Homo sapiens: one gene and its partners. The protein of the gene in region 2 purifies or fractionates together with the protein of the main gene of each other region. This does not show direct contact. Each region holds a gene or a part of one and is shown on either strand. Other genes may lie near its edges.

Region 1 (3,659 bases), about 19 Mb from region 2:
TTCTTAGTGAACTAGAACCTTCAGGTTATTGAATTTTACTGATTTGGGTACTGACATGCGCTTTTAAGAAGACATTAGGTTTTCTATAGTGTAGATTGTACACTAACAATATAATTCATATTTAAGAATGTCTCAAAATTTAGTATACTGTGTTCAACTAACTTAACTTTCTTTGTTTTTTTTGTTTTGTTTTGTTTTTGTTTTTTGAGACGGAGTCTTGCTATGCCACCCAGGCTGGAGTGCAGTGGCGTGATCTTGGCTTACTGCAACTTCAACACTCCTGGGTTCAAGTGATTTTCCTGCCTCAGCCTCCTGAGTAGCTGGGATTACAGGCACCCGCCACCACACCGGCTAATTTTTGTATTTTTAGTAGAGACGGGGTTTCGCCGTGTTGGCCAGGCTGGTCTTGGACTCCTGACTCAAATGATCTGCCTGCCTTGGCCTCCCACAGTGCTAGGATTACAGACATGAGCCACTGCGCCCGGCCGCTAACTTAACTTTCATTCCACAACTTCCATCTTTTATCCAAAATCTGTGATCATTGAATACTGTCACCATTAATCATTGGCATTTCAGTGTTTGGACTTTTTTTTTCCCCCTTCGTCTTTGTGGACTCTTTTTTAACACTCATAAAGTTTTAACTATTGAAAAGCAAAGGAAACGGTGAGTGACTTTTTGGAGTCTGTCTACCCAGTGGTCACACAAAAGGCTTACTACATTACAGGAAAGATAGGATGGGAAAGGGATACTAGAAAATTCTAAGTCAGGAACGGGGGTGTGTATTAGAAAAATTCTGATCCTGGCATGCCAGATGGCCTTACATCTCAATTTCTTCCGTGAAATTCCTGCCAACAAATCATAGTGTTAGAAGTACAGAAGGGTCCATGGGAACAGAATTTAAGGGCTCCGTTGGTGATACGGAACTGATCAGATGGTTCTCACTTGTTCTCAGATAACCTGTATACTGAATATCACAGGAAGGGTATAGACGTCATGGCAGTGGTTAGATATTCTTGCACCTGCTGAAGCTGAGAAAATTAAAGTAATTTTTTTTCCTGTGGAAAGTAGAAAATCAAGCTTTTGTATGATTTCACACAGCTTTCTATTCTCTCTTTTGTTGACTCTGTTAAGAGTAACATTTAGTGGTGGAAACTATTTCAGGATCACACCCACAACACTAGAGACTGTATTAATCACTTACACACACATAGGTATAGAGTAATCTTGAAGGGGCTGTAGGCCAAAGATAATGCTTTTTTGAAGAATTAGAGACTAGTTACCAGCACCTGGTATTTGCTGTTTCCTACAGAGCTGACTGGACAGCCTAGAGTCTGCTGAGGAATTCAGAGGATGGCCAGTAGAATGTTCTTTCCACCCCAGAATATTTGGTAGGGACTCAGCTGCTGTGGAATGCCAAAAAGGCTTTGAGTTTGTTTCACTATTCTTAAGATTACACGTAATTGTTTTTTTGTAAGAGATTATATATATTCAAGTTGAGGATGGCTTTGAGTTAGACTTTCCTTAATTTGGAATCACACAGCAGATGATACATTTATTTCCATCTGATAAGTTACTTGATGATGTAAAAAGACATTTGAGTTAAAGATTTTTGGGAAAAAAGCTGAATGTTGAGCCATTTATGTTGTGTACTGGTTCCCTATTCACTTGGACAATTTTAAGTCTTAAAACAATCTTAACCATGTGCACAAGAGATTTCACATAGTATTTGGTAATTAAATTAAGGAATTCTAGCTCAAGTCATGCTTTTTGCTGAAATAGTTGTATATATTTAGTGCGGAAACCTGTGTTTTCAAATTAATGTAATAAAAGTTTCAATAAAATGGAAGCCTTTATTACCGTGTTTCAAATGCTATGCTAAACCTTTTCCATTTGTTATTATATTAACCTCCTCATACATAGCCCTACTAATTTTTTTACTTTCTATTTTGAAATAATTACAGATTTATAGGAAGTTGTGAAAAATAGTACAGAGCCCATGTTCCCTTCACCAAGTTTCACCTAATGGTAGTAGCTCACATAACGATAATTTAATGTCAAGAACCAGGAAATTGTCATCGTTGCAATCCATAAGCCTTTTTTAGATTTCACCAGTTTCACATGTATTTGTGTGTGTGTGTATATATATAATTGTATGCAATTTTATCATGTGTAGATCTGGATAGCCACTGTAACAGTCTATAGTTCTATATACAGAGCTACTCCATCACCTCAGGGCTCCCTATGCTACCACTTTATAGCCGCACGCACCCTTCCAGCAACCACTAATCTGTTTGCATCTCTGTAATTTTGCCATTTTGAGAATGTTATATAAATGGAATCATACAGAATGTAACTTTGGCTTTTTTTCTTTTACCATACTTCCTTTGAGAGCCATCCAAATTGCTGCATGTATCAGTAGTTCATTTCTTTTTACTATTGAGTAGTAGTCCATAGTATGGCTGAACCACACAATTTGTTTAACCATTTACTTATTGAAGGACATACCAGAAGGGTGGTTTCCAGTTTTTTGGCTATTGCAAATAAAGCTGCTATAAACATTCATGTATATAAATATTTTTATGTGAATATAAAGTTTTCATTTTGGGGGAATAAATGCCCAAATGTTTGGATTGTATGGTAAGTGCATGTTTGGTTTTTAGAGAAACTGCTGAACTATTTATTTTCTAGAATGACTATATCCTCTTATATTCCTATCAACAATATATGAGATATCCAGTTTCTCTGCATCCTTGCTAGCATTTAGTGTTACCACTTTTTTATTTGAGCGGTTCTAATATGTGTAGTGATAGCCTGTTTTGCCTTATATTAATCAATAAAAATAGCCTCATCTAATCTTAACTTTTTTTATTTTAAAACATCTTGGCAGTATTGAACTTTCTCAATGAAAAATCTCTAAAATTGTGACTTGAAAGGCTTTAATTTTCCAGTTTTTCTTTGGTTTTACTCTTAGCAGTAACATTTTAACTTTTTTTTGTCTTTGAAGTAATTTTCAGTGTTTCCTTTACATGTTGCTTTTTCTTAGAAACTAGTTACTAGCATGAAGTAGATCTTTAGCCTCGTTTTCTAAAAACATAAAAAAGTAAAACTGTGGGGTTTATTTCAAAATTGAGAGTCCTGTCTTTTCATATGAGGATATTTTATAGTCTGTTGGCTTGGCTATATTTTAGGGAGTAAACCTGTGGTTAGTGGTTTGTTGTTGGTGGTGGTAAAGTTTTCTTACAGTATTTTTATACCTGAATAATACCTTTAGACTCTATAGAATAGATACTTGATCTTCAAATCTATCCTAGAATAAATTGTTTTATCTAAACAGCTTTGTGACCTGAGAATTGGGACTTAGTCCCTTAGTTTTCCCTTACTGGCCCTTTGTAGTCACTGTTTTGATTTTGTGAAAGTAACTTAACTCTTAGCACTGTCAGGTATTGTACATTCCTGCCAAAGCAAGAATAAGAATACATAGGATTGTGTTTTAATTCTATAATTAGGTGACTTTTGGCTAATTTCCAGGAACTTGGACTTAATAAAGTACTAGTGATAAGTTTGGAAATTTTAGTGTCCTTGTTCTTTGAAGTTATTCACCCTTTACTTTCTTGTTTGTTTGGGGTGTTTATACTACTGTCCCTAAATATAGCTGAAAT
Region 2 (3,659 bases):
CTGGACTGAAGTCCCAGCTGCTTAGGTTACCCATTGTGGGACCATGGGCAAGTCACTTAACTCTTGGAACCTCGATTTATTCCTCTGTAAAGTAGGGACAAGAATCCCTATCTCAGAAAGGTATAAGACATTAAATTAAATAAACCAGCACACCCAGCAATGTGTCTGGCTCTAAGAAGACGCTTTGATAATTGAGGACAGTAATTATTTTTGACTCATTCATTCCTCACCCAACTCTGTCAGGTAAGTACTGTCATTATCTCCATTTTTCAGATTAGAAAACTGAGGTTCTAAGACATGCAGTACATTACACACGGTCACATCAGCTGGGAAGTGATGGAGGCAAAATCTGAAGCCAGACAGTTTGGCTTCAGGGACTGGGCACTTAACAAAATACTGAACCATTTCTCTGGACCTTGGTTCCCTTATCTGTGAAAATGGAATAATAGAACTTTCCTCATGGGGTTGCCATGAAGGGTAACTGAGCTAATACACATAAGGAGTTTAGGATACTGCCTGGTATTTGGCGAGTGCTCAGTAAATGTGAACTATCTTTTTTATCATTTATTTATTTATTTATTTTTGAGATGGGGTCTCACTCTGTTGCCAGGCTGGAGTGCAGTGGCACCATCTTGGCTTACTGCAACCTCAGTCTCCTTAGGCTCAAGCATTTCTCCTACCTCAGCCTTCTGGAGTAGCTGGGAGTACAGGCATGCTCCACCATGCCTGGCTAATTTTTGTATTTTTTGTAGAAATGGGATTTTGCTATATCGCCCAGGCTGGTCTTGAACTCCTGGGCTCAAGGGATCCACCCGCCTTGTCTTGAACTCCTGGGCTCAAGCGATCCACCCGCCTTGGTCTCCCAAAGTGCTAGTGTGAGCCACTGAACCTGGCCCAAGCTATCATTTTTATTAAGGAGGAACATTATCAGGCAGACTCTCCAGAAACCGTCTGGAAGAGGTAGTGAGTACCTCATCCAGAAATAGGGAGGGATCCCTTGGAAACTGTAGGAAGAATTCAAGTCATCAGAAAGGTTAGAATTCAGTCCCTTTAACTTATCTTCAAGCCCCAGGATTGATTATTGATTGATTGATTGATTGAGACAGTGTCTTGCCCTGTCTCCCAGGCTGGAGTGCAGTGGTACAGCCTTGAACTCCTGGGCTCAAGCAGTCCTCCCACCCCAGCCTCTCAAGTAGGCAGTACTACAGGCACATGCCACCACATCTGCTAATTTTTATTTTTAGTAGAGATGGGGTCTCACCAGGTTGCCCAGGCTGGAGCGCAGTGGTACGATCATAGTTCCCTGCAGCCTCGAACCCCTGGGTTCACAGGATCCTCCCGCCTCAGCCTCCCACGTAGCTGGGACTTAAGGCGCATGCCACCACACCTGGCTAAGCCCTAGGATTTAGTGGGAAAAGTGAAATAACCAAGTGAGAATAAGATGGAGTTTTGTGGGATTGGGGCCAAACCCAAAGGGGAGATGCTTGAGGATCCTCCTGGTGGAAGTGGGGCTCCAGTGAAGGACTTGTCAGATTTGGAACAAGCAGGAAGGACCTGGGGATTTGCATGGTGTGGTGGAAGCCATGGAAAGTTCTTGAGCAGGGAACAGGAAACATCATTCATTACTTTTGGGAGAAGACCGGCTGCATGGGGTTGGGGAGGGAGGGCAGCGTGCAGGCCTGAGGCCGGGATTTCAGGCAGAAGGGTGCTGACTTTAAGGATGTGGCCCTTGCCACGCGTCAGGGGCTCCTGTGTCCTCCCTGGGTCAACCAGGTAAGCTGCTTCTCCCGCCCTTTCCTGGCATAAGGGGCCCTGAGTCTCTGTATTTCCCCTAGCACCCTCGTGGCTCAGCTCAGTTTCCTCCTCCTGAACCCCAGTGTCATAACTTAGAAGCCACCAACCCCTAACGTGTCCAGATGAGGAAATAGTCTTTTTATTTTTTTTTTTTTGAGACGGAGTCTTGCTCTGTCGCCCAGGCTGGAGTGCGGTGGCACGATCTTGGCTCACTGCAAGCTCCGCCTCCCAGGTTCACACCATTCTCCTGCCTCAGCCTCCCGAGTAGCTGGGACTACAGGCGCCCGCCACCACGCCCGGCTAATTTTTTTGTATTTTCAGTAGAGACGGGGTTTCACTGTGTTAGCCAGGATGGTCTCGGTCTCCTGACCTCGTGATCCGCCCCCCTCGGCCTCCCAAAGTGCTGGGATTACAGGCGTGAGCCACCACGCCCAGCCGGGCGGAAATAGTCTTATAAACAACACTCATTTCACTGAGGTCTCATAGTAATCCACAGGGCTGCAAGTAGAACGTAGGCCCCCTAGCCTCTGGGCACACCTGGCTCCCTGCAGCCCCCACTCCTCAGACCCCTTCCCCCAGCAGCAGCTGCTGAGCACTCCTTAAGTGGATCTGCCATAATCCTCTTCCCTTCATCCCCCAGGGAGGATGAGCTGGTGTTAAGACTAATACAGCCATTAATCCTGTTTCCTCCCAACCATGATCCCCAGGAGCAGCTGGGTGGAGGGCGTCTGGGTTCTGGACCAGAAAGTAGGGATCTCAGCTAGAGCTGGTATCCCAGGAGGCCATGTTAGATCAGATACATCAGTTATGACTCAGAAAGAGGCTTCCAGCTGCTAGCAATGGCTCAGGCTGCCTTGAGTGATTCTCCATTACCAGAGTTGTGGGAACAGGCCAACAAGATTCCAGAGCAGAGAGTGGACAGATTCCAGTCTGGGGCGGAGGCCCGTACAGCTGTGCAAGGCCAGAATTCTGTGTGAACAGTTGCTGTCTCTGAGGACTAACCATCCAGAGGAGGAAAGAAAACACAAATGCTGGGGACCTGTCACTTCCAGACAGTGCCAGCTACCAGATTTAGCCCATTGGCTCAGCCCTTTTCTGGTCCCAGGTCTGTCTTTTCTGGGCGCTTGGAGACCTTCAGGCCAGGCCCACGTCTGGGTACACTCTTTATCCTGGCATAGTTCTTGGACACTGAGCTGAAGAAGGAAGATGGTGAGACAGATGGAACCTGGGCCTCTGGGAATGCCACAGTGTTTGGAAAAGCCCGTTGGGGGCGGGGGGGGACGTGTAGGTGAATCTTTTGTGACCCTCAGCCTCCTTTCTTAGTGGCTCTGCGGACACTTGGTCCAACTCCTTTCTTCAATGAGCAGATCAGGGAGGAAACGAACGCAGGATGTCAGAGCCAGGAATGCTGGGCAGGAAGGATGTGTGGGTTCCGAGGTGAGAAATGCAGATGAGATAGGGTTCTCTCTGAGGCTTTCAGGAGTGGCGAAGGTATGTGGCTTTGGTCTAACTTTGCTTCTCTTGCAGAGAAACCCCGTTCACCAAGGCCATGGAAGTGGAGGCTGCAGAGGCCCGGTCCCCAGCCCCCGGCTACAAGCGCTCGGGCCGCCGCTACAAGTGCCTGTCCTGTACCAAGACATTTCCAAACGCGCCCAGGGCAGCGCGCCACGCTGCCACACATGGGCCGGCAGACTGCTCTGAAGAGGTGGCCGAGGTGAAGCCAAAGCCAGAGACAGAAGCTAAGGCAGAGGAAGCCAGTGGGGAGAAGGTGTCAGGCTCCGCGGCCAAGCCTAGGCCCTATGCGTGTCCGCTATGCCCCAAGGCCTACAAGACGGCACCCGAGCTGCGCAGCCACGGGCGCAGCC
Region 3 (2,531 bases), on a different chromosome or scaffold from region 2:
CCAGTTGGCTTTTCTTCTGTTTTATTCTCAAAATATAGAGATTCTGTGATTTATTTGCCCTGTTTATGGATTAAAAAGAAAATTCTAATATAAAGCATTTCAATAGGATGCATAGGTATATTACGTTTTTTAAATGCTTTAGATCTGTGATTCTTGACTTACTATTTATTTTATCCCCTTTTAAGTCAGGGATGCTTTATTCTATTTTAAAGCACTTATGAGTTACATGTTGTAATCAAGTTTGCACAATATATTTATCTATATGAGGAACCCATAAATGAATAGCTAATTTTTAAAATGCCATTAAAATGCATGAAATGCTTATTAAAACCTTACTATACTATTTCTTCAAGGCAAGTAAATTGACCATGAGAAAAGAACACAGTTATTAAACACTGTTGACAGGAAAATTCTCCTTGATAACATAGGACAATTAATGGAAAAAAAAATTCTCATTATTTGCAAAGAATGAACAAGTTAATGAACAAACAAACTAGATTTGGTATGTTTTCAGCTTTTGTATCATGTTTAATTGTTTAATTTGGTTGAAAAACTGCAGTTGAGAAATCAGATAGCAATATAGACATTCACAGCAGCTCTGTGGATACCATGTAATTGTCAGGTAATTTCAGAATGTTGAAAATTATTCAGTGCAGCCCTCATAGTATCATACTTGAAGAAATTGATTACAGTTCCACTAAATTGTTGAAGATAAATTATTTTTAAAGGTTATGAAAACTAAGTTATATTAATTCATATGTTTGATTTTTAAATCCCACCTCCTCAAGCTATCCAATTTTCTGACTTTGAAAATAACCATGAGAGATGCCACATTTCTCTCTGGGAAACTACCACTCAAAGAATAATTGTTAAAAATTAAGCTTTTAGGTATTAGAAGCTGTTATAAAGTATAAAATTAAGATATAAGCAGATCACATGTAAATCATTCCTAAAGCACAAGAAAAGAATGTGCCTTGATGTACATATATTACTAAGTTGCCTCTCCCAGTTTACTTTAAAAATGGCTTTAAGGATAAAGAATAAATGTGATAGCTGTGCATGCATTATATATTTGCATTTGCAAATTTCCCATTGTTTTAACAGCTGTGTGGCTGACTTTCAATTTTAAGACGTGAATTGACATACAGCCCATAACTTTATAATGGCTGCTCATTTATCTTATCTTTCAGTTAGTGGAAAAACATTTCAACCTGACTAAAATTTGGAATTGTGTCTTTTATGTTCCATCCTCTGTTGTTACTAGATTTAGTTTAAAAATTGTGTATGACCATTAATGTATGTCATAAACATGTAAATAAAAGATGTTGAATCTTGTTGAAAAGCATGAACTTTGGAGTTGAGCTTGTTACTATTTTCAGTTCATAAATCAGTTGTTACTTGATGTGTTATTAAGTTAATTTATTTTTAAAGGGAAAGGAAATAAAACACTAAAAAATAACGATTGGAGGAACACAATATTAAAACTTCTTACTCTTACATATAATTGATATGGACAAGAGGCAAGGAAATAATGGGTAGAAGAGGGCAGTTCCCCAGCAAAAGCCTGGAAACCCATGGCCCTAAATGGGAACAGGCATTCCTGTTTTCATGCCCAAATGTTGCCTTTTGGCCCACCACGCCCTCCTATCCTGTATCCATATAAACCCTAAACCCCAGGCTCCATGAGCAGAAGAGTGTTGCGGCAGAGGAGAGAAGAGAGGAGCATCTAAACGTCCAGAGGAGTTCAGCTGGGGACGGTTGGAGAGGAGATCATCTTCCCACTCCATCCCCTTTCCAGCTCCCCATCCATCCTGCTGAGAGCCACCTTTATCCAGCAATAAAATCCCCTGCATTTACCATCCTTCAATTTGTCCATGTGACCTGATTCTTCCTGGACGCTGGACAAGAACGCAGGTACCAAGAGGGCACTGAGCTAGTTAACACTTAAGCTATCTGTAGACAGCAGAGCTAAAGGAGCCCTGTAACATTCCCACTGGGGCTTTGGGAGTTGCAGACACCCCCCACCAGATGCTACTGTGGGGCCAGAGCCCAAAAGCACTCAATCCAGCTCCTGCACTTGCCCATCTGCATGCTTCCCCTCCTGTAAGGGGTTTGGGTGAACAAATGAGCCACACCCCTGTCTCATGTCCTGTGAGGATATCTGGGAACTTCCTTTTCATAATCTTGTCACAGGATTATATATTGTGCCATCAACCATCAGCTTTGAATAATGTAAATTTGTAAATTATATAAATTCCATGTAGAAACAAATGTTAAGAAGGTTCCAAAAATTCAGTGCAGTTTTAATGTTACCAAGAGGGCATTGTTAATTTATAACAATTCCTTTTTAGAAACATAAAGCATATTGCTGTCATGAGATGACTTCCAAAAACTATGGGTGTCTCCTGATCAAATATGGACGCCTTAAGCACTTTTGGCTACTTGTTACTGCTACTGCTACTAAGCAATTTGAATCACTGTTGTTATTCCCTGAAATGCATGTATTGTCAATCGAAGTGAATTAAGTAATG

The links.
Region 1: the proteins of ZNF668 (region 2) and TENT4B purify together in Homo sapiens (affinity purification with mass spectrometry; one large-scale study listed by BioGRID and IntAct). This does not show direct contact.
Region 3: the proteins of ZNF668 (region 2) and ZBTB11 purify together in Homo sapiens (affinity purification with mass spectrometry; one large-scale study listed by BioGRID and IntAct). This does not show direct contact.

Annotation. Positions count from the first base shown.
Region 1 is NC_000016.10:50,159,711-50,163,369, forward strand, and holds part of TENT4B (terminal nucleotidyltransferase 4B), read left to right. Parts: intron 1-3,659. UniProt on the Homo sapiens protein: Terminal nucleotidyltransferase that catalyzes preferentially the transfer of ATP and GTP on RNA 3' poly(A) tail creating a heterogeneous 3' poly(A) tail leading to mRNAs stabilization by protecting mRNAs from active deadenylation.
Region 2 is NC_000016.10:31,064,144-31,067,802, reverse strand, and holds part of ZNF668 (zinc finger protein 668), read left to right. Parts: intron 1-2,773; exon of another isoform or gene 2,774-3,003; intron 3,004-3,117; exon of another isoform or gene 3,118-3,184; coding exon of another isoform or gene 3,185-3,231; intron 3,232-3,321; coding exon of another isoform or gene 3,322-3,343; coding exon 3,344-3,659. UniProt on the Homo sapiens protein: May be involved in transcriptional regulation. May play a role in DNA repair process.
Region 3 is NC_000003.12:101,648,257-101,650,787, reverse strand, and holds the end of ZBTB11 (zinc finger and BTB domain-containing protein 11), read left to right. Parts: 3' UTR 1-1,899; downstream 1,900-2,531. UniProt on the Homo sapiens protein: May be involved in transcriptional regulation.